7 linked regions of the Homo sapiens genome follow. The protein of the gene in region 5 purifies or fractionates together with the protein of the main gene of each other region. This does not show direct contact. Each region holds a gene or a part of one and is shown on either strand. Other genes may lie near its edges. The genes, in order: PLXNA2, TMEM67, ZNG1A, ATRN, NDP, LRP1B and GALNT18.

The links.
Region 1: the proteins of NDP (region 5) and PLXNA2 purify together in Homo sapiens (affinity purification with mass spectrometry; one large-scale study listed by BioGRID and IntAct). This does not show direct contact.
Region 2: the proteins of NDP (region 5) and TMEM67 purify together in Homo sapiens (affinity purification with mass spectrometry; one large-scale study listed by BioGRID and IntAct). This does not show direct contact.
Region 3: the proteins of NDP (region 5) and ZNG1A purify together in Homo sapiens (affinity purification with mass spectrometry; one large-scale study listed by BioGRID and IntAct). This does not show direct contact.
Region 4: the proteins of NDP (region 5) and ATRN purify together in Homo sapiens (affinity purification with mass spectrometry; one large-scale study listed by BioGRID and IntAct). This does not show direct contact.
Region 6: the proteins of NDP (region 5) and LRP1B purify together in Homo sapiens (affinity purification with mass spectrometry; one large-scale study listed by BioGRID and IntAct). This does not show direct contact.
Region 7: the proteins of NDP (region 5) and GALNT18 purify together in Homo sapiens (affinity purification with mass spectrometry; one large-scale study listed by BioGRID and IntAct). This does not show direct contact.

Annotation. Positions count from the first base shown.
Region 1 is NC_000001.11:208,038,385-208,041,884, reverse strand, and holds part of PLXNA2 (plexin-A2 precursor), read left to right. Parts: intron 1-1,826; coding exon 1,827-1,893; intron 1,894-2,117; coding exon 2,118-2,264; intron 2,265-2,900; coding exon 2,901-3,060; intron 3,061-3,410; coding exon 3,411-3,500. UniProt on the Homo sapiens protein: Coreceptor for SEMA3A and SEMA6A. Necessary for signaling by SEMA6A and class 3 semaphorins and subsequent remodeling of the cytoskeleton. Plays a role in axon guidance, invasive growth and cell migration.
Region 2 is NC_000008.11:93,782,394-93,785,893, forward strand, and holds part of TMEM67 (meckelin isoform 1 precursor), read left to right. Parts: intron 1-1; coding exon 2-67; intron 68-2,828; coding exon 2,829-2,985; intron 2,986-3,500. UniProt on the Homo sapiens protein: Required for ciliary structure and function. Part of the tectonic-like complex which is required for tissue-specific ciliogenesis and may regulate ciliary membrane composition.
Region 3 is NC_000009.12:162,057-165,556, forward strand, and holds part of ZNG1A (zinc-regulated GTPase metalloprotein activator 1A), read right to left. Parts: intron 2,393-3,500; exon of another isoform or gene 2,347-2,392; intron 1,982-2,346; coding exon 1,922-1,981; intron 414-1,921; coding exon 376-413; intron 1-375. UniProt on the Homo sapiens protein: Zinc chaperone that directly transfers zinc cofactor to target metalloproteins, thereby activating them.
Region 4 is NC_000020.11:3,477,518-3,481,017, forward strand, and holds part of ATRN (attractin isoform 1 preproprotein), read left to right. Parts: intron 1-3,500. UniProt on the Homo sapiens protein: Involved in the initial immune cell clustering during inflammatory response and may regulate chemotactic activity of chemokines. May play a role in melanocortin signaling pathways that regulate energy homeostasis and hair color.
Region 5 is NC_000023.11:43,970,591-43,974,638, reverse strand, and holds the start of NDP (norrin precursor), read left to right. Parts: upstream 1-1,248; 5' UTR 1,249-1,335; intron 1,336-3,086; exon of another isoform or gene 3,087-3,194; intron 3,195-4,048. UniProt on the Homo sapiens protein: Activates the canonical Wnt signaling pathway through FZD4 and LRP5 coreceptor.
Region 6 is NC_000002.12:142,124,517-142,128,016, reverse strand, and holds part of LRP1B (low-density lipoprotein receptor-related protein 1B precursor), read left to right. Parts: intron 1-3,500. UniProt on the Homo sapiens protein: Potential cell surface proteins that bind and internalize ligands in the process of receptor-mediated endocytosis.
Region 7 is NC_000011.10:11,374,006-11,377,505, reverse strand, and holds part of GALNT18 (polypeptide N-acetylgalactosaminyltransferase 18), read left to right. Parts: intron 1-126; coding exon 127-324; intron 325-3,500. UniProt on the Homo sapiens protein: Catalyzes the initial reaction in O-linked oligosaccharide biosynthesis, the transfer of an N-acetyl-D-galactosamine (GalNAc) residue from UDP-GalNAc to a serine or threonine residue on the protein receptor.

The sequences.
Region 1 (3,500 bases), on a different chromosome or scaffold from region 5:
TGGATGAGCTCAGACCCTTGCTCGGATCTCAGCTGGAGTCCCAGCTCTGCCTCCTGCTAGCTCTGTGATTTCTGGCCAGTGTTGTAACCACTCTGTTGTTTAGTTTCCTCCTAGACAAAATGAGAAAAATAATTCCTATCTCACAGTCTCTTCCTCCCGGTGCCTCTAGAGCTGTGCTGTCCGGCACAGCGGCCCCTAGCCACAGGTAGCTGCTACAAATTAAAATGAAATAGAATGTAAAATCCAGCTCCTCCATTGCCCTAGCACCTAGCCGCTTTCTAAGTGCTTGGTTGCCACATTGCAGCTAGTGGCCACCATACGGGACCGCACAGATAGAGAACATTCCCATTATCGCAGAAGGTTCTATTGCGCAGCACTGAGCTAGGGATTTGGACAGCCTAGAAGGCCGTGCCTTCTGAGCTCAGCTTCCTGGATCTGAATCACAGCATCCACTACACATGCCCACTGCATTTTTCCTGGCAGGGGAGAGGGTTGGAGACCTCAGTATCCCCTGAGCCCACCCTCTCTAGAGGCCGTGGGGAGCCGGGCACAGCTTTGGAGTCCTCTGGGCAGCAGGGGCTGGAGGGCTGCACCTCCGTTCACCACCCCTCCTCTTTAGCCTTCCTCTAGCAAGGTCTCAGGCTTCCAGGCCCCACGTGGGGTGAGGAGGGAGGAAGAATGGCTTTGCTTTATGAGTACTGAGCCCCCATCCTGCCAATCTGAGCATTAGAAACTCTCATTAAGAACTGTTGTATTTAAATTAGAGCTAATCTCAAGCACAATGCAGGGAGAGGGTGCTGGGAGGAGCCACGGGAGAAAGCTACAATTTTTTCTGCCATTGTCACTCTCTCCCAGGCCCAGATTGCTGAGCAGCCCTGGCAAATGCCTGGGATTTACTGCAACCAGAGGATATAATTTGCACCACGTGCAGGGAGTTAAAATACCCCTCCGGCATCCCCTTCACTGAGGGTCTGTCACAGCCGCTTTGTTCCTTCCCAAATCCCCAGATCTGTAGCCCTGGGATGGGAAGGGGAGGGGGGCCAGCCCTTGCATGAGCAAATCCCCTGTTGGCAAAACACTTAAGCACTGCTCTCTACCTGAGGGCTGGGATCCAAGACCCCACATGACAGCAATAATGACAGCTAATGGATAGTGCTTAGCAGGTGCCAGGCACTTTTCTTAGCACTTTACAAATATTAACTCATTCAACCCTGACAACAACCACTGGGGTTGGATGTTATTATGACTGTCTCCATTTAGTGATAGGAATACTGAAACCAGAGAGGTTAAATGACTTGCCCAAGGTCACACAGCCAACGTATGGCAGAATCAGGATTTGAACCCAAGGAAGTCTAACCTTGAGTGTTTTTGGAGGGGAAGGGACCAGGCACCTTCCAGATAGGCAAAACAGGGTACTCACACATGCAAGAAAGCCCAGAGGGACTGGGAAACTCTCTAGTTATCACCCTGAGGCCAGAAGTGAGTTGGGAGAACCGGTTCTTTATAGCCCTGTGGGATAGTGAGGTGCCTTTATCCACAGACCCTGTCTCAGATGCAGCCAAAGTTCAGAGCACCACGGACCATCAGGGCTGAAAAGGCCAACCTCTCCATTTTCATAGGAAATTGAGGCCCAGAAAGAAGCCACCCCTACCCCCAGGTCACAGTCTAGTTACTGGGTGAGCTGGGCTGGGACCCAGGTGTCCTGACTCCCGCCCTGCGTTCTCCCATGCTCCATTGTTCTCTTGGGAGACCTCATGGCAAGCCCAGGCCCCACCACGGAGACCCCTCTGTGAAGGACTGCCCCTTACCCTTTGTCCCTTCCCCAGGACAGAGTCTGTGGCTGAAAAGATGCTGACCAATTGGTTCGCCTTCCTCCTGCACAAGTTCCTAAAGGTGAGAAAGGGAGTGAGACGGGGCCTAGCGTCCAGGGCAGGATGGCACTGCTGCTTAGATCCTGGCCACAGGGCTGCATGGGGACCCCCTCCCTCGGGAGCAGGAACCTGGACTGGCTGTGCTAAAGCCCTTCCTTCCACTGGCCTCGCTCCGAGAGAGGAAAGGGAAAACGTACAAACCTGAGGAGGCCGTGCCCACACCTCCTGCCCTGTCTGTGCCCACAGGAGTGCGCAGGGGAGCCACTCTTCATGCTATACTGTGCCATCAAGCAGCAGATGGAGAAGGGCCCCATTGATGCCATCACGGGCGAGGCCCGCTACTCCCTGAGCGAGGACAAGCTCATCCGGCAGCAGATCGAGTACAAGACCCTGGTGAGGAAGCCGGAAGCTCCGGGCCCGCCTGTGTATCTTCTACTTCTGCCCCTTGCTCTGCCTTCTGTCCATAAAAGCAGTCTAGGGGGTCAATAAAGAGGATGGGAGGCTGGTCTGGGGTGAGCCCAAAGGACAACTAAGTGTACCAAGAGCAAGGTGGCAGGCCCGCCCACCCATCCCAAGCACTCTATGCCTCGGTTTATCCTAGATAATATTGGGGGAGAAAAAAGTTCACCCATCATTAGTTATTGGGTAATTGGTATTATGAGAAAGATGTATGTTGGTTCCTAACATAGAGGCTTTGGGGAAGTGCATGACTAGTCTCTGATACATGTAGAGCCATCTCTAAACACTGAGGGTGCCTCATTCCAGGACTATAGTCTCCCCTAAGCTGTCCAGGAGCTAGAAAGTAGAGTCCTGGTGCTTTGAGAAAGAAGAATTGGACACAATGACTCAGACTCTCATTTGGCAGATGTTATGAAGGTGAGGGAAACTGAGTCACAGACCAGAAAAGTACCCTTATTTCCCCTATAAGGAGGGTGAACTTTGGAAAAAGAAGATTCTGAGGTCCTGACCCTCTCCCTCAAACTACTCCTTCAACTCCTGTCCTGCTCACCCTCTGTCCCCTACTTGTAGATCCTGAACTGCGTCAACCCTGACAACGAGAACAGTCCAGAGATCCCAGTGAAGGTGTTAAACTGTGACACCATCACACAGGTCAAGGAGAAGATTCTTGATGCCGTGTATAAGAATGTGCCCTATTCCCAGCGGCCGAGGGCAGTGGACATGGACTTGGGTAGGAAACCTGGACTCAGAGTGTGAGGGCAGGGGTTGAGAGGTGAAGGAAGGGAAGCTGCCATGCACACAACCCTTGCAGGGGCATGACTGTGTCCTGGCCAGCTGAGGCCCGTGTGAAATGCTTCCCGCTTTGAGCGCTGCCTGTTCAGATGTGGCTGTCTCTGGGGAGGTCTACGTGTTTCCTCTGCTGCCTGGGCCCATGGAGCCCTAGATGTCTCTAGCCTCTGTTATTGGTACCAGCTTGAGGGGGCCGGGTTGCCAGGTCCCTAGAGAAGGTGCAATCGGGAGACACTGGCTCACAGCCCTCATCCCTCTCACGCCGCTCCCTGCACCACCCCCTCCACCCAGAGTGGCGCCAAGGCCGGATCGCCCGGGTCGTGCTGCAAGATGAGGACATCACCACCAAGATTGAGGGTGACTGGAAGCGGCTCAACACAC
Region 2 (3,500 bases), on a different chromosome or scaffold from region 5:
GCTTTGTCCAGACACAGAGACAAGGCTAAATGCTGCTTATTCATTTGGAACAACCTACCAACAAAATGTAAGTTTGAACGATATTAGTCTATATTTTAGCTTTATTTTTCAAAATATCATGTCAGCAGTAATTGGAATAATACTTAAATTTTTGAGATTGGAAATTTTTTATTCTTGGTTTTTTTTTTTTTTTTTTTGAGATGGAGTTTTGCTCTTGTTGCCCAGGCTGGAGTGCAGTGGTGCAATCTCAGTTCACCACAACCTCCGCCTCCCAGGTTCAAGTGATTCTCCTGCCTCAGCCTCCCGAGTAGCTGGAATTACAGACATGTGCCACCACGCCCAGCTAATTTTTTGTATTTTTAGTAAAGACAGGGTTTCTCCATGTTGATCAGGCTGATCTTGAACTCCCCACCTCAGATGATCTGCCCTCCTCAGCCTCCCGAAGTGCTGAGATTACAGGCATGAGCCACCGTGCCTGGCCGGAAATGTTTTTAATAGTGAAGAATAATTTCACTATTTAATATAATTTTTTATTACCTGGGTACATAAAAGCTTAATTTAAGTGGCATAAACAGAGCACCTTGTTATCTATAGAGTTTTTTGTTTTTTGAGACAGAGTCTCGCTCTGTTGCCCAGGCTGGAGTGCAGTGGTGCAATCTCAGCTCACTGCAATCTCTTGCCTCCTGGGTTCAAGCAATTCTCGTGCCTCAACCACCTGAGTAGCTGGGACAACAGGCATGTACCACCACACCCAGCTAATTCTTGTGTTTTGCATAGAGATGGGGTTTTGCTGTGTTGACCACGCTTGTCTCAAACTCCTGACCTCAACTGATCCACCAGCCTTGGCCTCCCAAAGTGCTGGGATTACAGGTGTGAGCCACCTCGTCCGGCCTAGAGTCTTAAACATCATATAATATTACATCTTCATAATAAATTGTTTATCTGCTTCTAGGCTTATAGGTCTTAAAAAGTAATGCTTACTTCTGAGCATTTTGAAATAAAGTAAAAATACTACTTTTTTTAAATGACTAATAAAAAGTTACTCCCTTCTTCTACCCGCTCATAACAAATAAAAATAATTCCTTCATCTTCTTCCATTCTTTTCTTTCTCCTTCCTTCTCTGACTTTCCTTACTTTGATACCTATTTTGAAATTACATTATTTTACTAAGGAATATTATGAGCCATTCAATACTTGAAAAACATGCATGTATTAGTCCGTTCTCACGCTGCTAATAAAAACACATCCGAGACTGGGTAATTTACAAAGGAAATAGGTTTAATTGACTCACAGTTCACTATGGCTGAGGAGGCCTCAGGAAACTTACAATCATGGTGGAAGGGAAGCAAACATGTCCTTTTTCACGTGGTGACAGGAAGAGAAGTACTGAGCAAAAGGGGGAGAAGCCCCTCATAAAACCATCAATCTCATGAGAACTCACTCACTATCATGAGAACAGCATGAGGGTAACTGCCCCTATGATTCAATTACCTCCCTCCGGGTCCTTCCCATGACACATGGGGATTATGGGAACTACAGTTCAAGATGAGATTTGGGTGGGGACACAGCCAAACCATATCAATTCATTAGTCTGTAAAAGTACATCTTGATAAAGTTCCACGCACAACCATAGAACAAAACCATAACAAAAAATACCATTATGGAAAGTAGATTGGAAGAATCTACTAACAGTGGTTACCTCTGGATAGTGGGGTTAGAAATTATTTTTTTCTTTTTTATAATTTCCAAATTTTCTACCATGAACATGAATTTACTTCTTTTGTCAGAAATGATTTACACGTTGTTGTTGCTGTTGTTGTTAAAATAAATGTTATTGTGCTTCTAACATAGGCCAGAAAGATCAACACTTATGTAATGCCTATCTGTGTGCTCAGCATTTTATCGTTATTATCCCATTTGATTCATAAAATAACTATATGAGATACATAGTATCTGTGCTTCACAGATGAGGAAATTATGCCGTGTAATTAGGTAATTTACTCAAAGACTTGTGTCACATAAACTGTGGAGCCAATGTTCTATCATCAGGTTTAAAAAGCATTTTTATTTCTTTGAACCTGGCTAACTCTCAAGTCCTTCATAGACTAGTGGGCAAAACAGTTATATAGACAAAGAATTGCAAAGAATGTGATAAGTGTCATTCTATAGGTATGTACAAGGTACTGATTCCTGGGGAAGTATAGAAAGGCTTCACAAAGTAAGTGATACTTGGATTTGTATAATGAATATGAGTTTTCCAGAAGAACACAGTGGGGAAGGAAATATCAGACAGAAATCACATTTGTAATGACAGAGAGACATACAGTAGTATGGCATATTTAGAAACTACAAGTAGATTAGTATGAATGGACCACCATAGACTGATAGGGAGTAATGAGAGATAAGCCTGGCTTGGTTAATGGAAGCCAGATCATATACATCATTGTACAGCAGGAGAAAAAATTGGGAATTTATCCCGTAGGACAGTAGTTTTAAACCTTTTCACTGATGTACCCTTAATATTGAGAATGAAGGTATACCTCCTTCATCTGAGTTGAAGCTCAAGAAGTTCTCAAAATTCTCAAAGCAGTACTTTACTGTTAGTGGTTTTGGTCCTTATAAAATAATCATAGTATTCATGTTTTGGAAGACAAATGAAAATGCATATAAACAAGGTAGTATAAAGACATTTTGCAAAACTAGAAAAACACTCTGAAGATAATAAATATGCTTGCTAATTTTCAATTGTGATCTTTTATTTTATTTTTTACTTTTTAGTACTTTAAGTTGCTGTTTTATGTGCTTTTATTTTTAATTTTACTTTTCAGTGTGAGATTCCTATCTCTAAGATCTTAATTGACTTTCCCACTCCTATATTTTATGATGTGTACCTTGAATATACTGATGAAAATCAACATCAATATATTTTGGCTGTGCCTGTGTTAAACCTAAATCTTCAACATAATAAGATATTTGTGAACCAAGGTAAGACATCCATACATACCACTCTTTTCCCTGAGCAGAAATCAACAAATAAGTTAACCTACATGATAATTTAATAAACCACTGATTATAAGAAAGGTCATGAATTCTCTCTTATGTGGTTCTATACAGTGTGCCAAAAAATGAAACAATAAATTGCTGGTGGACTTAGAAACTGTTGCTAATTTTATTGCCAGACATATTGTTAAGAAATTATACTGTTGCTGAGGGTATATCCTGAGAAACATTAGTAGAACCGTAAATTGGGGCTTTTTCGTCAAGCTGTCCCGAATATGCTTTTTTGGACAAATTAGTTTCTTTTGTTGTTATTCATGTTATAAAATTCTGCTTTTTCAGGTAATTTGCAGGGGAAAGCCTTCCAAATTTATGAAAAGTTCAATCAGAAGACATTCAAGTCCAAGGCACGGTGGCTCACGCCTATAATCGCAGCACTTTGGGAGGCCAAGACGAGAGAATTGCTTGAGCCTAGAAATTGAAGACCAACCTAGGCAACATAA
Region 3 (3,500 bases), on a different chromosome or scaffold from region 5:
GTAATTTAACAAGAAAAATAAGATCTCAGATGCTTTATCAAGCTCAGCTTCTTCTATGGAACAGAAAAACTTACCAATATTGGGGTTGAATCCTTGTGAAGAGTTATACATACCAAACTCTACCCTAACCCCATATGCTTATTACAAATTATAATTCCAAATTTTATCACCAAATCAAACTCAGAGTAATAGAAAAGAAATATTTAACACAAACTAATAATTAAAACACAAATTTCACCTATTGTTCAGGATATCTTTTTGAGAAAGGTTTTTGTTAAAGAAAATTTCAGATACAAACATAAAGAAAATTAAACAATCAATCCCCATATTCCCAGCTCTCAATAATGACCCACTCATAGCAATCTTTCAACTTACTTTTAATCCATATTTTGAATCCACAATAGTTATGATACCTACAAAGGAAAAAACATTTTAATCACTTTTTAAAAAGAATGTTTATTAATATTTGTACAACCATACTTCAAAATGAAAATTAAAACTAACCTATTTCAGTTCACAAATACTACTCAATAAAACAATGTACTGTTTTTTTCTCTTGCCAGTGCTGCCATTTAATTAAATTCCAGTAATAAGTCAATGCATTTCCTGAGTGGCTAGCACTATTTTAAGGCACTAGAAACGATATAAAACAAATAAAAATTTTAAATTAAATAAATAAGAAAATAAGATTTCCTTGGCACTGAAAAAGCTTACAATCCAAAATATAAGTCAAATTTCATAACATAGTCAAATGTGATAAGTACATAAGACAGGTTATTTCTAGTTTATTTTCACATAATCAAAATCAAGACTTTTCTTAAGATTTAAATTATTGCCTAAAGAATGAGACATCTTAAGGTATCATTCCTAACATCTCTCACCAAATCCAAATCCAACTCATAAATGTTCTACATAACATATGCCTAAGTTTCCAAACTACCAATTCATTTTGCAATCTCTGAATATATGCTGATAACAAAAGAATGAGTTTAATTATGCCTAAGGAATTCAACCAGTTACCCGCCACATATATTAGAGCTCAATGATGGGGCCCAGCTTAATAATTCTTAAATTTCTTAATGATTATTACTTTTGAAAAAGTAAGAAAATTTCGACTGAGAAAGGGAGAAAACATAGTCGCTTAACTAAGAAAGTTTCTAATATATTTTAAATGAAGGCATATCATTGCCCAAAAGTGTTCAGGTAAATAAAGTAAGACAGGAGTGTTTAATTCTTATCTTCAAGAGAAAATAAAAGCAAAAATATGATCCTCATATTGCCTGGAGGATTAAAATAAAAGGCTCTAACATTATATTAAGGGCATAAATCAAACAACAGAGGATACAGAAAACCTACAAAGCATTTTTTTTTTTAAAGAAAACCTTAGTGGAAGCACTAAATTGGAAGTTGAGTGACATCGAGTTCCACCACTGTCTGGGGTTTTTTAATCTATATGAACAAAGATTTCATCATTAAACTAAAGTGTGAAAAGAACAACAATGCAAGGAATTAAAGTTATAATATGAATGAACAACAACAATAAGCTTAACCATAAAGATTTTACTAAAAAACAAAAGAGGCAGGGTGTGGTGGCTCACGCCTGTAATCCCAGCACTTTGGGAGGCCGAGGCTGGCGGATCACCTGAAGTCAGGGGTTCAAGACCAGTCAGGCCAACATGGCGAAACCCCGTCTCTACTAAAAATCCAAAAATTAGCCAGGTACGATGGTGCACGCCTGTAGTCCCAGCTACTCGGGAGGCTGAGGCAAGAGAATCACTTGAACCCAGGAGGTAAAGGTTGCAGTGAGCCGAGATCATGCCACTGCACTCCATGCACTCCAGTCTGGGCAACAAAGTGAGACTCTGTCTCAGAAAAAAAAAAAAAAACAAGAAAGATAAAAGAAAACTGTTTTTTAACTTACCATCAAGATAAATATCACTCCCTAATTCAGCATCAACCCAAAACATAGAAGCCACTGCACCTGAAAATATATAATATTCATCAAATAAAAATATTTCTTCACACTGAGAAACATGATTCTATCCATGTTTTAATTTGCCCTGATAAAATTAACAGGTAAACACATATATCTTCTTATGGAAATTATAGTGATAGAAGCTTTAACTATTTATAGCAAAAGGGAATTATAGTGATAGAACCTTTTACTATTTATACCCATTCCATTTCCATCTCTCTTGTTATTTCCTTTAAAAAAGACCAATTCTAACCACATATAAACAAAACATCATTCTTCTACCGATGCCATAATAATTTAATTAACAGATATTATCAAACAATTTGAGCAGTATGGCTTTGTGCACATCAGACTTATTTTTATTTTCTCACCTCTTTAATATGATAATCATTCAATCATAAATAGTGAATTATCACTCTAAAGGAAAAGGAAAACAAAACATAGATAATTCCAAAATCACTTGCCCAAAAAAAATTTACTTGTAATCTGTGTAGAACTAGAAGTAAAATTATATACTCTATGGCATTACTAATTATTCCTCACACTATTTATTTAGTACTGTATAAAACCTGGGTCTTAGGAAAAATTTTTCCTAAATAATAAATTAAAACTTGCTTTTGACAGAAATTGGTTCAGTACCAAACCACATACCCTGATTAGTATGCCACAACGCAAGAAAAAGAAAACTGACAGCAAGGAAAGTATTTGATTTTTGAAAGCATCACAGGCCCAGTTAGTGACAGGGCTGTCTAAAAGAATGAGTGTAGGAGAAAAACAAGGATAATCAAACTCATTCCAGCGTCTAAAGCTGTCCACCTACTCTGCCAAGATGTGGTCCCCCAAGCATCACTCGGTGTCAACAATGAAATACCTGTCAGCTGTTTACAGTGATTACTCATGCAAGATATAGCAAGGGCCACAAGATCTAATGGTTTCCTGATACCTATTGATTTTTTTCCCAAAAACTTAATAGTTTTCCAATTTGACTCAAATAGGATTTGTGAGTAACAGGGGCTGAATCAATGTCTGTTCTTTTCAAGGAAATTACTTTACCATGACAATTATTTAACTTAGAACTGGAGCGTGTCAGTCTCCAAAACGGGAAACAACTGAATTGCCAATAAGAATTTTGTTCACTTTCTTGGCTAAAACATGATTTTAATTAATGAGGGGGGAAATTAAATCTACTGTATCACTACTCCAAACAATAAGTCATTTAAAAAAGCATGAATTTTTTCACTCAGTAAAATATCTAACATACATAAATCATTTTGTAATTTTTAAAAATTCATTGATTTTTATTCCAATAAATAGTTTACAAATCCTACTGTTAATATTTGCCTCTTAAGTTGAAATGTAAGAGTATATTAATGCTTTATTCTAAAACTGGTATTTATCTTTGATATAATACTTGCCAGACTACATGAGAAAGATCTATTTAAAATTTGGATGTAGGTATTTAGGGGGAGTAAAGATGAATGAACAAAATTGATCAGTGGCTCTCAAATCAGGGTGCTTTTCTCCC
Region 4 (3,500 bases), on a different chromosome or scaffold from region 5:
CCAGTTTAGGCTGATCTGCTTTCCCCAGTGCAATGTAAGTTCCATGAGGGCAGGGGCCTGGAGCATAGTTCACAAGTCCAGTTTAGGCTGATCTGCTTTCCCCAGTACAATGTAAGTTCCATGAGGGCAGGGGCCTGGAGCATAGTTCACAAGTCCAGTTTAGGCTGATCTGCTTTCCCCAGTGCAATGTAAGTTCCATGAGGGCAGGGGCCTGGAGCATAGTGAGCAGTAAATATCTGTTGAATGAAGGAATAAAATTCTGTAATTTACTTCTTATGACTTTTAAAAAAGTCGTCTTTACCCACATGACTGCCATATATGTCTTCTGTCCTTATATTGCTCCTGAACTTCTCTGTCATCCACTGTTTGGTGGGCATCTTTTATTGTCACCTCATACTGAATCATGTATAACACCAAACTTCTATCCTCATTGAAAAAAATAGTCTTTTTCTTTGTACTTCCTTATTTGTTTTAGCTAAATCCAAATTTAGCTAACCAAAGGTCAAAACTTAGCAGTAATCTTTGGCTCTTTCTACCTGTTTGTTTTTTTCTGCTCTCACACTGTATAAATTTGTTTCTTTCCATTTCTTCTGCTGCCATTCTAATGTACCTAACCCTTCACCTCATTGCTGACCTGCTTCTGTTGCACTTTTACTGTTTTCTTACACCTGCAGAGTCTGCTTCACACTTTGTCATATCAGTCTTCTAAAAAACATGTGTCTCTATGCACACGTATGTTTATTGCAGCACTATTCACAATAGCAAAGACTTGGAACCAACCACTGATGGGCTATCCAGCCCATCAGTGATAGACTGGATAAAGAAAATGTGGCACATATACACCGTGGAATACTGTGCAGCCATAAAAAATGGTGAGTTCATGTTCTTTGCAGGGACATGGATGAAGCTGGAAACCATCATTCTTAGCAAACTAACACAGGAACAGAAAACCAAACACCGCATGTTCTCACTCGTAAGTGGGAGCAGGGAGGGGAACATCACACACTGGGGCTTTCGGTGGGTAGGGGGATAGGGGAGGGATAGCATTAGGAGAAATAGCTAATGTAGAGTATGGGTTGATGGGTGCAGTAAACCACTGTGGCACGTGTATGTCTGTGTAACAAATCTGCACGTTCTGCACATATATCCCAGAACTTAAAGTGTAATAAAAAACAAAAACATGTGTCTCTTATTTTGCTTCTTTTATTACCTCTAAAATGATCCTCAGCAGAAGGATCCCATTCCTTTCACATCCCTTTTTTTCCTAACCAAATCTTTCTACTTCGTAGTTTTTCTGTGTTTGCTAAATTCAGCACCTCCCTCCTCACTGCTCCCCCATTCTTTCTTTTCATCTCTACTTACCAAGGCCCACCTTCAGTTCTCTATAATCTATAATTCATACCCTTTTTTTTTTTTTTTTTTTTGAGAGACAAGGTCTTATTCTGTCATCTAGGCTGGAGGGCAGTGCTCCTGGGCTCAAGTGATCCTGCCACCTCAGCCTCCCAAGTGGCTGGGATCACAGGCCAGTGTGCCCAGCCAATTTTTAAATTTTTTGTAGAGATGAGGTCTCACTATGTTGCCCAGGCCAATCTGGAACTCCTGTCCCCAAGAGATCATCTCGTCTTGACCTCCCAAAGTGCTGGGATTACAGGCATGAGCCACTGCACCTGACCCCTATTATCTTCTTTTGAAATGAGTCATCTGCTAATTCACTTCATAAATATCTGCTGAATATTGTGTGTTAGGTACTGTGCCCTTCCTTGAGGATATGAAGGTGTGTAAGAATCAGGCCTTGCTTTCCCCTAAGAGAAGTTATAACTATGAAGGGAAGACAGCTACGTACACAGCAATTAGAATTTCATAATAAAAATACAGGCAATATGTGGTGCTGGACTAAGATGTGATTGACTTAACTCTTTTGGGGGTTCTGGTGGAAGACATCACAGAAGAGAGGACATTTGGGCAGGTCTGAGAGGTTTAGTGTGAGTAGACCATCTGGGGGAGAAAGACATTCCAGAAGGAATGAAGAGTTGATGTGCAAAGGCAAAGAATTATGGATTATCATACTTAGTGTATTAATTTCCAAGGGCTGTTACAGTGAAGTGCCACAAACTCATGGCATAAAACAACAGAAATTTATTCTTTCATAGTTCTGGGGACTAGAAGCCTGCAATCAAGGTACTGGCAGGGCCACGATCTCTCTGAAGACTCTCAGGGAGGATCTGTTCCATGCCTTTCTCTTCGCTTCTGGAGTTGCCAGCAGTCCTTGGCATTTTGGCTTGTAGATGCATCACTTCAGCCTCTGCCTCCGTCCCTTCAATCTCATGTGATACTCTCCCTCCCTTTGTGTCTCTGTCTTTTCTCTTAAGGGTACCAGTCATAGTGGATGAACGAGTATGACATCATCGTAACTTTGTTGCATCTGCCAAGACCCTGTTTCCAAATAAGGTCACATTCACAGGGACCCAGGGTTAGGACTTTGACATATCTTTTTGGGGAACACAGTACAACCCACAGCACCTGGAGAACTGAATGTAGGTGCCTGTTGTTGGAACATAACTTGTGAGGGGTGTAATGGAAGGAAGGGGGTGAGGTTGTAAGGTTATAATGGCCTCTTTTTGTCCCTTCCCAACAATCTCCAGCTTCTGGGTTTATGCTTGACCTAGGATAAGCCCTCAGGGCATTCCAGTTTCTGGCCGTGCTGATTGTTTTGAAATGGGTTTATGATTGATTTTAATGGACTCAATCAGAGTGAATCTCAGGACTTTTGTCGGAGATCCCTTTCCTCTGTGGGCGTTTAGAAGGACATGTGTTGCCTTCTTTTCTGTGTGGCGAGGCCATAATGCCTAGAACTGTTAAGAGTTAGCGTTGCTGCTGTAAGGAATTCACCTCAGGTCAGAACAACTCCCAGAAGATGGAGGATGGCAGAGAAATGGAGCCGGAGACCTGATAACTTTCTGAATCTCTGGATCAAAACTTGCCTGAAGGTGTAGTTTTTGGTTTGTGAAGTACTGCAGTCCATGTTTTTCTTAAGCCGGTTAGAGTTGGATTTCCTTCCACTTACAGTAGAACAATTCCTAACATACAGAGGGAGGGAGGTAGAGCCAGCTGACTAGGGTTAGTCAGTTAGGGCTTCTGTAACAAATTACCATAGACTTTACCTCGATGAAAGGTTCCCAAGATGGGCAGATGCTTTTTATTTACCGCAGTATAGAGGACAGGTATGTACGCAGGAGAAAAAGGAGAGTGTGTGTTTATGATCAGAACAGTTTTGATCATATAAATGTGATTAAGTGATTTAATACATTTGTAGGTTATTTTTATCTTAAGAAATACAGAAGTGAGTACCTAGTGTTATGATTGAACAGAAATCTTACACTGGTTTTTCTTGTTAATACAATCATATTTCCAAAACTGAAATGAAACTATAGTTGTACTTTTTGAAATACTTGTGTCTGGAAATTGGCCATTAACTTACTATGATACTTGTTTCCCACTTA
Region 5 (4,048 bases):
TAAATTTATTAATGAATAACAAATAGTTTGATACAGAGTTGAACAAGACAGTTTCAGCATCAACAATTACATGAAGCTCCCAAGAAAAATTTCTTTTTGAGTTTTATAATGTATTATTTTTTCCACGAAATATATATATTTTAAATTCTCAGTTTAATTCTTCATCAGTAGTATTAATAAAACAAATTATTCTGGGTCTGATTTACCTGACATAAAATAATTATTAAATGTTCTTTGTATTTTCCTCCAAAATCCCTGACGGTTTTCTGTGTTAATTTTAAGCTTTCAAAGGGCAAGAATTATGAAATATTTGCCTTTGTAGTCCCACAGCTCATAACACAGCATGATTCAGCTGCAGGTATTTAACCCACACACATAGTTACCTTTGTCACTTTTCTACTAGTTGTTGTGTAATGGGTTAGCTTTATCTATTAGTTTCTCCTTCATATAGCTCAAGGAGTCAAGGAATACACGTTCTCATTGTTTCTAAATCAGACCTAAAGTTTTATTCTAAATGATGCAGATGAAGGGGCTTATTAAAGTGCCATTGTGAATTTAATCATGTATATGCTGCTAAAAATCATTTAATGGATGAACAACCCGGAAAAAAAGAACTCTCACCACCCACACACATCGTGATAAAATAGGGCAGCGTTTTGCACTTGCTTTAACAGCATCGCCTGAGAAAAAAATTTCTGGTTCCCATCTTTCCCCTCTCTTACTTAAAATTTCAACTTCATCACAGTCAGCTGCCGAATCGTTCAACAGAATGCCACACTGCCTTTGTATTTCCAAAACTATACGTCTCTATTGCGGACGGCACATCTTTATGGCAGCCACATGCTTGAAAAAGAATTAAATTCAGAATATTCATTTGGCCTCTTATTAGTTCCATAATACCATTAAAAAAGAAAGAAAGAAAGAAACTTCCTCGCCCTTGTTCTGCTACGCTGTTCCCATCGTAAGATGCTCCGTGGAAGGGAGCCGAGCGGTGGGCAGAGGCTGAGTCCCCGATAACGAGCGCCTCACATTTCCGTGGCATTCCCATTTGCTAGTGCGCTGCTGCGGCCGCACGCCTGATTGATATATGACTGCAATGGCACTTTTCCATTTGACATTCTCTCTCTCTCTCTCCCTCTCTCTCTCTCCCTCTCTCTCTCCCTCTCTCTCTCTCCCTGTGTCGCTTAAACAACAGTCCTAACTTTTGTGTGTTGCAAATATAAAAGGCAAGCCATGTGACAGAGGGACAGAAGAACAAAAGCATTTGGAAGTAACAGGACCTCTTTCTAGCTCTCAGAAAAGTCTGAGAAGAAAGGAGCCCTGCGTTCCCCTAAGGTAAGCAGGAAAACAAGCGCTGCCGGCTTGCCTAGGAAATCGCTTCTTTCCAAACCGAGCATTTCATCCTCCTCTCAGACAAAGAGACAACCTTTAAATACCACTTAAATTTGCATTACTTTAATTTGCATTAATCTGTAGCATGCTAGCATTGTGTTTCTTAAATGAACGGGTCTTTGAAGTCTGTGACAGAGCAGGGAGCCTCCTAGAAAAGCTTGAAAATATCTTTTGGTTTGACTTAAAGAGATTTTTCTTTTCAAACTCTCTGCGTAGTTAGATGTAACTTTGTGATGGTTCTTATAGTTGACCCCGTGAAAGGGGGCTGCGAAGCAGCAACTTGCCAACATGGATTCATGGAGCCCAGTATCTTCCCCAGCACCCTCATCCCACTTACAATGGGGGCACTATTAACGCAGGCAAGACTGCGAGTTTAAAAGCGCACTGTTTACTTTTATTACTACTTATGTATGCTGCTGATCTCCTGCCAGGGCTCTGCCGGAGTGCTCAGAATGACTTCAAACAATAGGCAACATTTATTTCTAGCTTTCTGTGTCACGCTTTGCAGGAATCCTGCTCCCTTGCACTCTTCTTTCAGCGTGCAGGTCTTCGCTTCCATAGATGCATTGGGGAGCACCGGGAGGAGATGAGGATGGATTTACTGTATGATTTTGATTGGGCAAAAAGTCCGAGGAAATGCATGCTGTTTGCCTTGGACTTATTGCAGGGGGTTATTTTTAGTCATCAGCTCGTCCCTGCAGCATGATGTTCAAGGAGTGACCGGGAAAGGATGCTCCCACCAGCACAGAGACCAGGACCTGTAGGAATGACTCCTACCTGCGGGATATTCCGAGGTTTCTTTCAAACTTTGGAATACAAGTTCTCTCTTTAAATGAACAATTGAGCTGTAGGAGGCCTGGGCATAACTCTTTCTTGGGGGACGGGAAGTTTGATTGTGTACAGAATGTTAATGACTCAGAACGCCCAGTAACTGAGGCTCATTGTAATAGACAAACCCAGATAAGCCTCCATGAGAGGCAGACTCCCATCTTTACTGAGATTCAGGTGCGGGAAAGGAAGCTATTTGGCAAGATGGGAGTCCCTTGTACAGTTCTTTGTAACTCATTAATAACAGATATGGCTGCTGTGAAACATGTCTCTTTTCATTTCTAATATTAGTGTATTTTAATTACAAGGAGCTGGCATTGGCAAATTACCCCAACACATAAGATTAAATACCAGGTGCATTTGAAAACAGAGAGATGACTGAAATGGGGAGTTGCTGTGGGTGTCAACCAAATACAGCGGGGACGGCACAATGCTTCTCAACTGAGCGTTTAAACCAGATGCAAATATCTGCTCATTTTCTTCTCATCAGTCTTACTAATTCAAGGAAACTTTATGGTCCTGTTTGCCAGTTTTCATTGCAAATTGGTACACAGTTTATGCAAAACTTTTCTGATTTTCTCTGATAACCAGCCCAATAAGCATCGCTGAATGAAAATCTGATATTTGAATAGGTTAATTTACAACTTTGGGGTATTCATTAGTCAAGAAAGCCATAAAAGACACTATGGATTCCATTGCTGTAAAATTTTATTGTAATTTTTTTTTAAAAAAACTGCGGTTAGCAAAGCATTTAGCTGAATCAAAACAATTTTCTTAGACTATTATTCAGATCATTACATGAGAGTATTTGAACACAAAATGCAATGTTTTGCATCATTTATTTTAAAATACATTTGGTTCAGGTAACGGGAGAACTGGCTGAGGCCTTCTTACGACTGTGTACCAAGCAGCTGACACCCACAGATGGAAATGTGCCTGTGGAGTTTTCAATCTTAATTCGAGTTCCAATGACACTGTCAAGGGAAAAATAAATCATTTTTCAATACATTTAACAATTTCCAACTCATTTATTTTCCTGGGCCCTTGAAAAATGTGGTGAGTTTCTTGGAATTATAGCCACCAATGGTGGCCAGCAATCTTTATTTTAAGAACTCACAATTCAAGTACTATTATTCTCTGGTTAATTATTTATTTCATCAATTTTTAAATAAATATTTATTAAGCATTTTCTAGATGCCCAGTGCTATGCTAGTCCCGATGGATGCAAAGGTGAATGAGACATTGTCCCATACTCTAATTCTCAGTCCATATGCCATCTCTAGTTAGATTTTGGAACTGAAATGGGCATTGCCAATGGGTAAAGTGGGCAATAACTTTCCTGTTATAAAGAATTATTTAAAACAGCTACTGGTTTCTAGATTTACTTGAAATGATTCTCACTCATCAGTGGGTTTTCTTTCCATTTATGATTAAGGGATTCCCCTTTGGCCTTTTTCACCAGATCCTGGGTACACGTCATTTGCACAGCTAACACGGCTAGATCTTTCCAGCCTGGGTAGAAGAATCCCGGAAAAAGACAGTAGTTTATCCTTTCTCTGCTCTCCTGAGCACCCTGTGGAAAGGACCATATGCTGTCTCTATTGGGGATGGGTGTGAGTCGCCTACTCAGTAGCTAACATCAGGGCCACTTGATGAATCATCGAATTAGAAACATGCATATGGAGGAAGATGCAGTCACTATCCCTCACCACTTACTTGTCCCACCCCCAGTATCAAAACAAATGACCTCTGGGCCTGGCCTAAATTCAAGAGGCCCCTGGGAAGAAGCTGTTGGAAACTCTTCCCCAAACCCAGGTCTCCATCATAG
Region 6 (3,500 bases), on a different chromosome or scaffold from region 5:
AGGAAACATCTTTGTAACTCTTAACAGCCAAAATTGGAAGATAAATCAGATTCACTTAGAATCAACTAATTTGTCATATAACAATGTCATATCATATCAAAGTATTGCTTGATAAGGATTAAAACTTAAAAGGAAGTATATCTTAAAGTGTCAAATTTTCTGAAAAGGGATTGAGAGGCCTAATGCTAGTCTGTGTTAAATTCTCGAGTATGATACAATGTGGAGACACATTTCCAAATAATTAAAGTTCATGCTGTTATAGTCATTTTAATGTATCTGTATAGAAAACCATCAAACAATGGCAATTAAATGTATATCAAAATTTTAATCTCCCCTCAAAGAAGAATGAACTGCGATTTATGTCTCTTCATATGCCACAAATAACATTAAAGTTTTGTTTTGAAGAGGTTGCTAATCTTTGAATTTGTTCTCTTTCTCTCTTCTCAAGCTCAAATTTAAACTGAGTGAGAGAGAAAAGAGAAAATGGAAAAGGTAAAGAAAGAATTTAAATGTGCTAAAACAATAAGAAAGAATGTGAATTGCAGAAAACAGAATTCAGGAGGAAAAATGGAGTTAAGAGAAAGCTGAAGATAAATTTAGGAAAAAGATGAATGGATGGATGGATGGATGGATGGATGGATGGATGGATTCTGCCATACATCAGAATCTGAATCAGTATTTCTTGAATAGGTTAAAATATCTTTAGACAAAATAATTTCTTAAAATGTTTTTATCTCATTATTAAAAACATTATATGAAAATATTTACAGTATAAAAATAATTTAAGGAAAGTGCCACCAGTGTGAATCTGAATATAATTAGACCTCTAAGAATGGAGAGAGACATGAGAATATTGCAGAAAAATTAAATATTAACTGTGCTAGAATTACAAATATGGAAGTGATTTTTTAAAAATGTAAGTGAAGGTAAAGGAAATTTTCTTAGAAAGGGTGCTAGATGAGTGATATGGTTAATGTATTCTTAGGACTTAGATGACACTTTCTAAATGCTGCTTGTTTTTCAAGGTGGAGGTATGCAGAAATACTTAGTTTGCAAATCTATTGGATCCAGGACATTAGTTTCTTGCCAGTTACCTTGTCAATTTCTTTTCTCAGCCCAGGGGATACCATAAAAATCAGCTCCATTTAAAGTCACCTGAACTGAACAGGACTTGGTCTTCTACAAGGATTATGATGTTGAGGGAACTTTATGTCTTTTCTCCATTCTATATATGGATCCAGTTTTTTATGTTTCTGCCATTAATTTTTGTATCTTAATGTGAAATGTGCAACTCTCCCTCCCTTTCCTTCAGCATTTTCCTGGTTATAGGAATTCTGTGTAGTAAAAAGTACCAATCAAACATACTGATAGATTTCTCTATCTTCTGTGGCTGTCTGTCAAAACAATTCTTGTACAAAGGAAACACTTGTCTTCATTCTAGATAGATGCATTCAAAGAAAGTAGAATTAATCCTAAAAGTTAAACATGCCTGTGCCAACATGATATCATTCGTCAAACTAAGTTAGTAGTAAGTGGAACCCAACTATACAATTGCCCCCAACCCCGTTTTTAATCTCTCTCTGTGTGTGTTTATGTGTGTCTGTATATCTGCTTTAAAATGGCTTTCCTTGGCACAAACGCCATTAAAAATACCACTCTGGCTTGAAAATTGGTGATGGTTTTTATGAATGAAACTTTTGCTTTTGAAAACTCCAGATAAACATGTCTATTTATCTGGACAAAAAAAAAAGTGAAATGAAAAAAATTTTAAGTTATTTTTTGACTCATAGCATATAATATTCTAATACATTTCGATATAACAAGTATTTTGTTTTAACAGAATCTGACTGTGTGGCAGAAACACGTGTCAAAATTATCTGCTTTTGAAATGAATATAATTATGGTATACCCAATGCTTATAATTTGAAGCAATACATTTAGTAGCAGAATGCTAAAGAAAATAAAGCCAAAGACTGAGTTCCATTATGAATTAATCAGAATATATGCTCAGCCAAACTCCTATGAGAAAATATCTATGTCTACCTTAGATAGTTTTAAAACTTTTCTTAAATTTCTTCAAGAAACCTGGCTTCCCCCATATAATCCAAGAATAATGACCAAAACTATCTTGATGCATAGAAAGGTCAAATAAGAAGGTTTTTCTTTTGGTTTTGGCAGAGGAGGGGGGAGAGTAGGGAAAATTAGCTAATCAAACAGAAAAATGTCAAGGGATGCTTTTTATTTTCTTCTGTGGAGTTGCTATACATTTTCACATGGATAGCTATTCCCAAATTTAACCTGTGTCACAAACCATTGTCTAGAGACATAGAAATGAAATTGCAACAGAGCAATCACAAATTGTATAGTCTATAGGCCTTGGGAACATTCTCCAGTTATTTTATTTTGGATGGAGATTTTTAAAACTTATTAGTTTTTTGGGATAAAATATTATTTAAACAGTAAATAAGACAAAAAATGAAAATATCTCTAAAAATAATTTGAGTTTTTAAAAGTTGGTTTTTGGACTAATTTCCATATGTGAGTTCCACTGGCACAGAATGAGTGTCTTTACCTCACTCACTCAATTTTGAAAAGTATTATACTTGCAATAGTATTGAATCTCTGTTCTGGCTCTTCAGTCCTCTCTCATTTGAATAACATGTCAATCTCACCAAGTACATATGAACCCTCTATTTTAGAGAAAGGAGAATGAAGGATTCAGGAGATTCTGCCATTCAGCACAACAAGTAAGCTTACATCTTCCAAATGTATATGCTGTTTTTTTTCTGTTTGTCTTCTATAATCTGCCCTCACAATTTTAAATCTATATTTTCCTCTTCATAAATGATCAGATGGCCTCCCTTTTTCCCCTGGCATAATTACAAGGCCAAGTTAGAAAGTATGTATTATGTATTGCTCTGTTCTAAATTGAGTGATATTAAAATGTAGAGTCAGTCTCACTCTCTCCATCTCTCTTTCTCTCCATCCTTTCTATTTAGGCTATCTCTATACAAGCCCACATATTTTGACTGAGCTCCCTGACTAAACCAATTGATGAAACTGACTAGTAACTAAATGGAAATCAAAACTATTAAATAATAGCCATACATCCTGTAAAAAAAAAAAGTAAGACTGGTCTTGCAGGAAAAGCCTAAATTGAGATTCTATGAAGAAACAATAACAACAACATATTTCCCTGAAAGAATTATGCAACATATTTCTAGTTTGCAGAGCAAATCATATGTGCTTTTGCTGTTGTGTCTCTCATACTAGGCAAATGAAATATTTTTGGTAGTAACTACATATTTATATAATGGGGTATTATACAAGTTTAAAACACTATTAGAAAATAAATAAGTATTCTGAATTCATTTGTACTCAAAGAGAATTTACTATATTGAAAGTGGAAATTTATTATTTTTCTTTTTGTCTTTACTTTTTAACTGAATTTGTATTTCTCCATTTTGTGAAACATTAAAAAAAACTTAAATATATTCCAA
Region 7 (3,500 bases), on a different chromosome or scaffold from region 5:
TCCATCAGAGGAGATGGGCAGGCCTTCCTTCCTCTTTCTGCTGGGGAAGGACCTTCAGGAGATGCTACTCTGGATTTTTCCACCTTGGAAATGGTTACCCTCTCTGGCTGTCTCCTCTCTGCCCAGGGCTGAACCTGTACTCACCCGCATCAAGGAGAACCGGAAGCGGATCATCTCGCCATCCTTTGATAACATCAAATATGACAACTTTGAGATAGAAGAGTACCCGCTGGCTGCCCAGGGCTTTGACTGGGAGCTGTGGTGCCGCTACCTAAATCCCCCCAAGGCCTGGTGGAAGCTGGAGAACTCCACAGCGCCAATCAGGTAAAGCAAACCTTTACCTGTGGGTCTCTCCGCTTTGACCTCCAGGCTAGGGACCGCCTACTGGTCCAATGCTTATTCTCCAACTTGAGCCCCATCGTGGGGATGACAGGGGTGGGCAGGGTCGAAAGGAACTGCAGTCTGATCTTCAGTCACTGCCACAGGCTCTGAAGATCTCAGAATCCATTCACAGCCTCAAAGTGACCCATTTTCACACATCACTGTGAGACGTCTGCTGGGCGCCAACCACTGTGCTCCAGGTTGGGGATCCGGAGTGATGAAGATTTGGTTCCCACTGCCAAAAGCCTGGAGTCTAGTGAAGACAGACAAAATCATTGGAATAGGAACATTATTCTACCATGCAGGCAGAAACTGCATTGAAAGCGGGGAAATGCTTTTCAGAGGGCAGCATTTTCACTTGTTTTTGAAGGCGAGTAGAAGATGGCTAGGTTGGGGAATGGACACCCATATGCAAAGTTCATGAACACAGAGAAGGTTCAAAGTCACTAGAAGTGGGAAGTGAGCCAGCAGCCCCCGGCAGTAGGGGTGGAGGGGCTGAGAGGCAAGATCGGACCCCACAGGACAGTGTATACCTTGATGATATTTGAGTGTTATTCTGTAAGACTCAGACAAAAGTGACTTCATACTGCATTTCAAAGGTCCCAAGTTCTTTCCTGCCTTTGCTGCCATCTTCCTAGACTCATGAATGACTCCCTTGTGTGGTCTCGGCTTTTAAGGTTCAGGACTCCTCCAAAAGCTGTCCCCACTAGTTTTTATTTCTGTCTGTGTTTGTTTTTGTTTTTGAGACGGAGTCTCACTCTGTCACCCAGGCTGGAGGGCAATGGCGTGATCTCGGCTCAATGAAACCTCTGGCCCCTGGGTTCAAGTGATTCTCCTGCCTCAGCCTCCCAAGTAGGTGGGATAACAGGCACCTGCCACTGCACCTGGCTGATTTTTGTATTTTTTACTAGGGACAGGGTTTCATCATGTTGGCCAGGCTGGTCTTGAACTCCTGACCTCGTGATCTACCCGCCTCGGCCTCCCAAAGTGCTGGGATTACAGGCATGAGCCACTGCGCCTGGCCTATTTCTGTCTATATTGATGATACGGTGGGTGTCTTTATGTTCCCTGCGAAGTCCTGCCCGTTATAAAACAGAAGGCACCAGAAGGTGGCCTAGGGTACAGTTTTTGGAGTGCAAGAGATTAGAAGCTCATGTTGTTTTATATTATATTAGGGAGAAAGGGTATGAAAAATTTAATTGAAAGTCAGGGATTATTACTTAAGATCACATTTTTCCTTGCCAGAAGAAAAAATGTATACTCATACTTAAAACGGGATAAAACCACCTAACTTTCCTGAAGTTACCTGATACCTACTCTGCTCGGCCCCTGCCACAATTTTGTGTTGTTAAACATTTGCTGACAGTCTGCTATGTACAAGGGTCTTTTACACGCATTGGCTCATTTGATCATCATCGCAACCTGTTGACCGCTCATGTCTCATCCCTGTTTTACAAGAGGAGGAGAGCAAGACTGAGAGAGGTGAATGGCCCTGCCAAAGGCTCTGGGCGGTAGAGCCAGGATCCACCCAGAGAAGCTAGACTCAGTGGCTAGTTTTCACCCCTCTTATTGTCCACTGTTGAGCTCAGAACTGGTGTAGCTGTTTTCTGCTCCCAGGCCTGATGAATGCTGTTGGAAGGAAATATGCCCCCATGCAATGAGCATTCCTGCAGAAGACTGCATTGACAGTAACTGTTTCTGTTCTGCTCATCTCTAACTGTACTGGTCCAGTCTCAATCAGCAAGCCTGCATTCCAGGTCCTTGCCAGACAATGTCATCTCAACCTCAAATTTTCTATCACCCAATTTTTATCAAAAACTTGGTTGAGGGAAATAACTTCTATGGAAGATTTTTGGAAGAACATTCCTGGTTTTATTCCCAGATGAAGACAGCTCCACAGAAAGCTGTGATTTATACAAATGTATCTTGCCCATCCGAGCTCCCTTTTCTTTCAAGCTATACTTGAGTGCTTTGCCCACACATGGTGTAAGTCATAAAAAGAGCCCAGCAATATCTTCTGGTGTATTCTAAAGGGATGTCTTTGTGATCGCTGTTCCCTAAGTCGCCAGGTGACCCCATTAAGAAAATCCACGTGAGAAATTTCTTTCAAACTGACTGCCAGTCAAAGAAAGACTTGCTATCCCCAGGGAATCAATTAATATGACATTTTCACATGAGAACTGTACATTTTGTTTCTAAGACCATGTGTGTTCATTTCCACTTTGACCAACAGGAAACTCAAAGGCAAGCTTTCATGTCTGCTTTAAGAACAATTGAGAGAGGACCTTGGTTCTGCACATGCATTCCAATTTGTTGCAATCTTTAGGTCTGTCCAGACATTTATCTATTTATGGTTCTCTATGTATTTTAAATTTTCTCATAAGCTATTTCTAATCCTTTCAGGAATGAGGCAAGGTGTAAATCGATAACTCTTTCATGCTGATAGAATCCACTTAATACCCTAGCCGGTTAATAATAAACCACTGAGGTGGCCTGTGCTCATCTCAGAGTAACTGTTTCAGATTCTGTTCATTACCTGGCTTGAACTGTCAGTTTGAGGAAGGTCCCTTCCTGTGTGTCCTGAAAGCATTTTTCCAGCGTGCCCTGCCCTGTCCAACACTAGGAATGCAGAGGCAAATGCCAAGGCCCCACTCTGCCAGCCTGATGTTTCTGAATCATCACGTATTTAAAGAGAGGATCTTCTAGACTTAGTGCACAATTGCATCTTTTTACCTTTTTAAATGGCCTTTTGAGTGCCAGTTATGTCCCAGAGGCTCTCAAGTGCTTTAATTTAGTCCGTGTGAGGTTAGAATAGATCCTATGTTACAGATATGGAATCGGAGGCTCAGAGAGGCTAGGGAACTTCTCTTAGAGACATGCATCCGGAAGGGGGATTTTTCCCAGAGAGACTACCTCGAAGGCCTGGGTTCAGTTACCTCCACCACAGCAGGGTCTCAGTCTGCTTTAGGAGTGGTGGATTAGCTTCCCAGGATGCCTGCAGGTCTGTGAGGGTGAAGCCATTTAGAATAAAATGCAGTGATTTGAAAGGAAGAGAAACAGTGGCTCCAGGGTGTCAGTCTCTGCCCCAGAAGTCTCCTGTATCTGCATTCCCCAGGGAA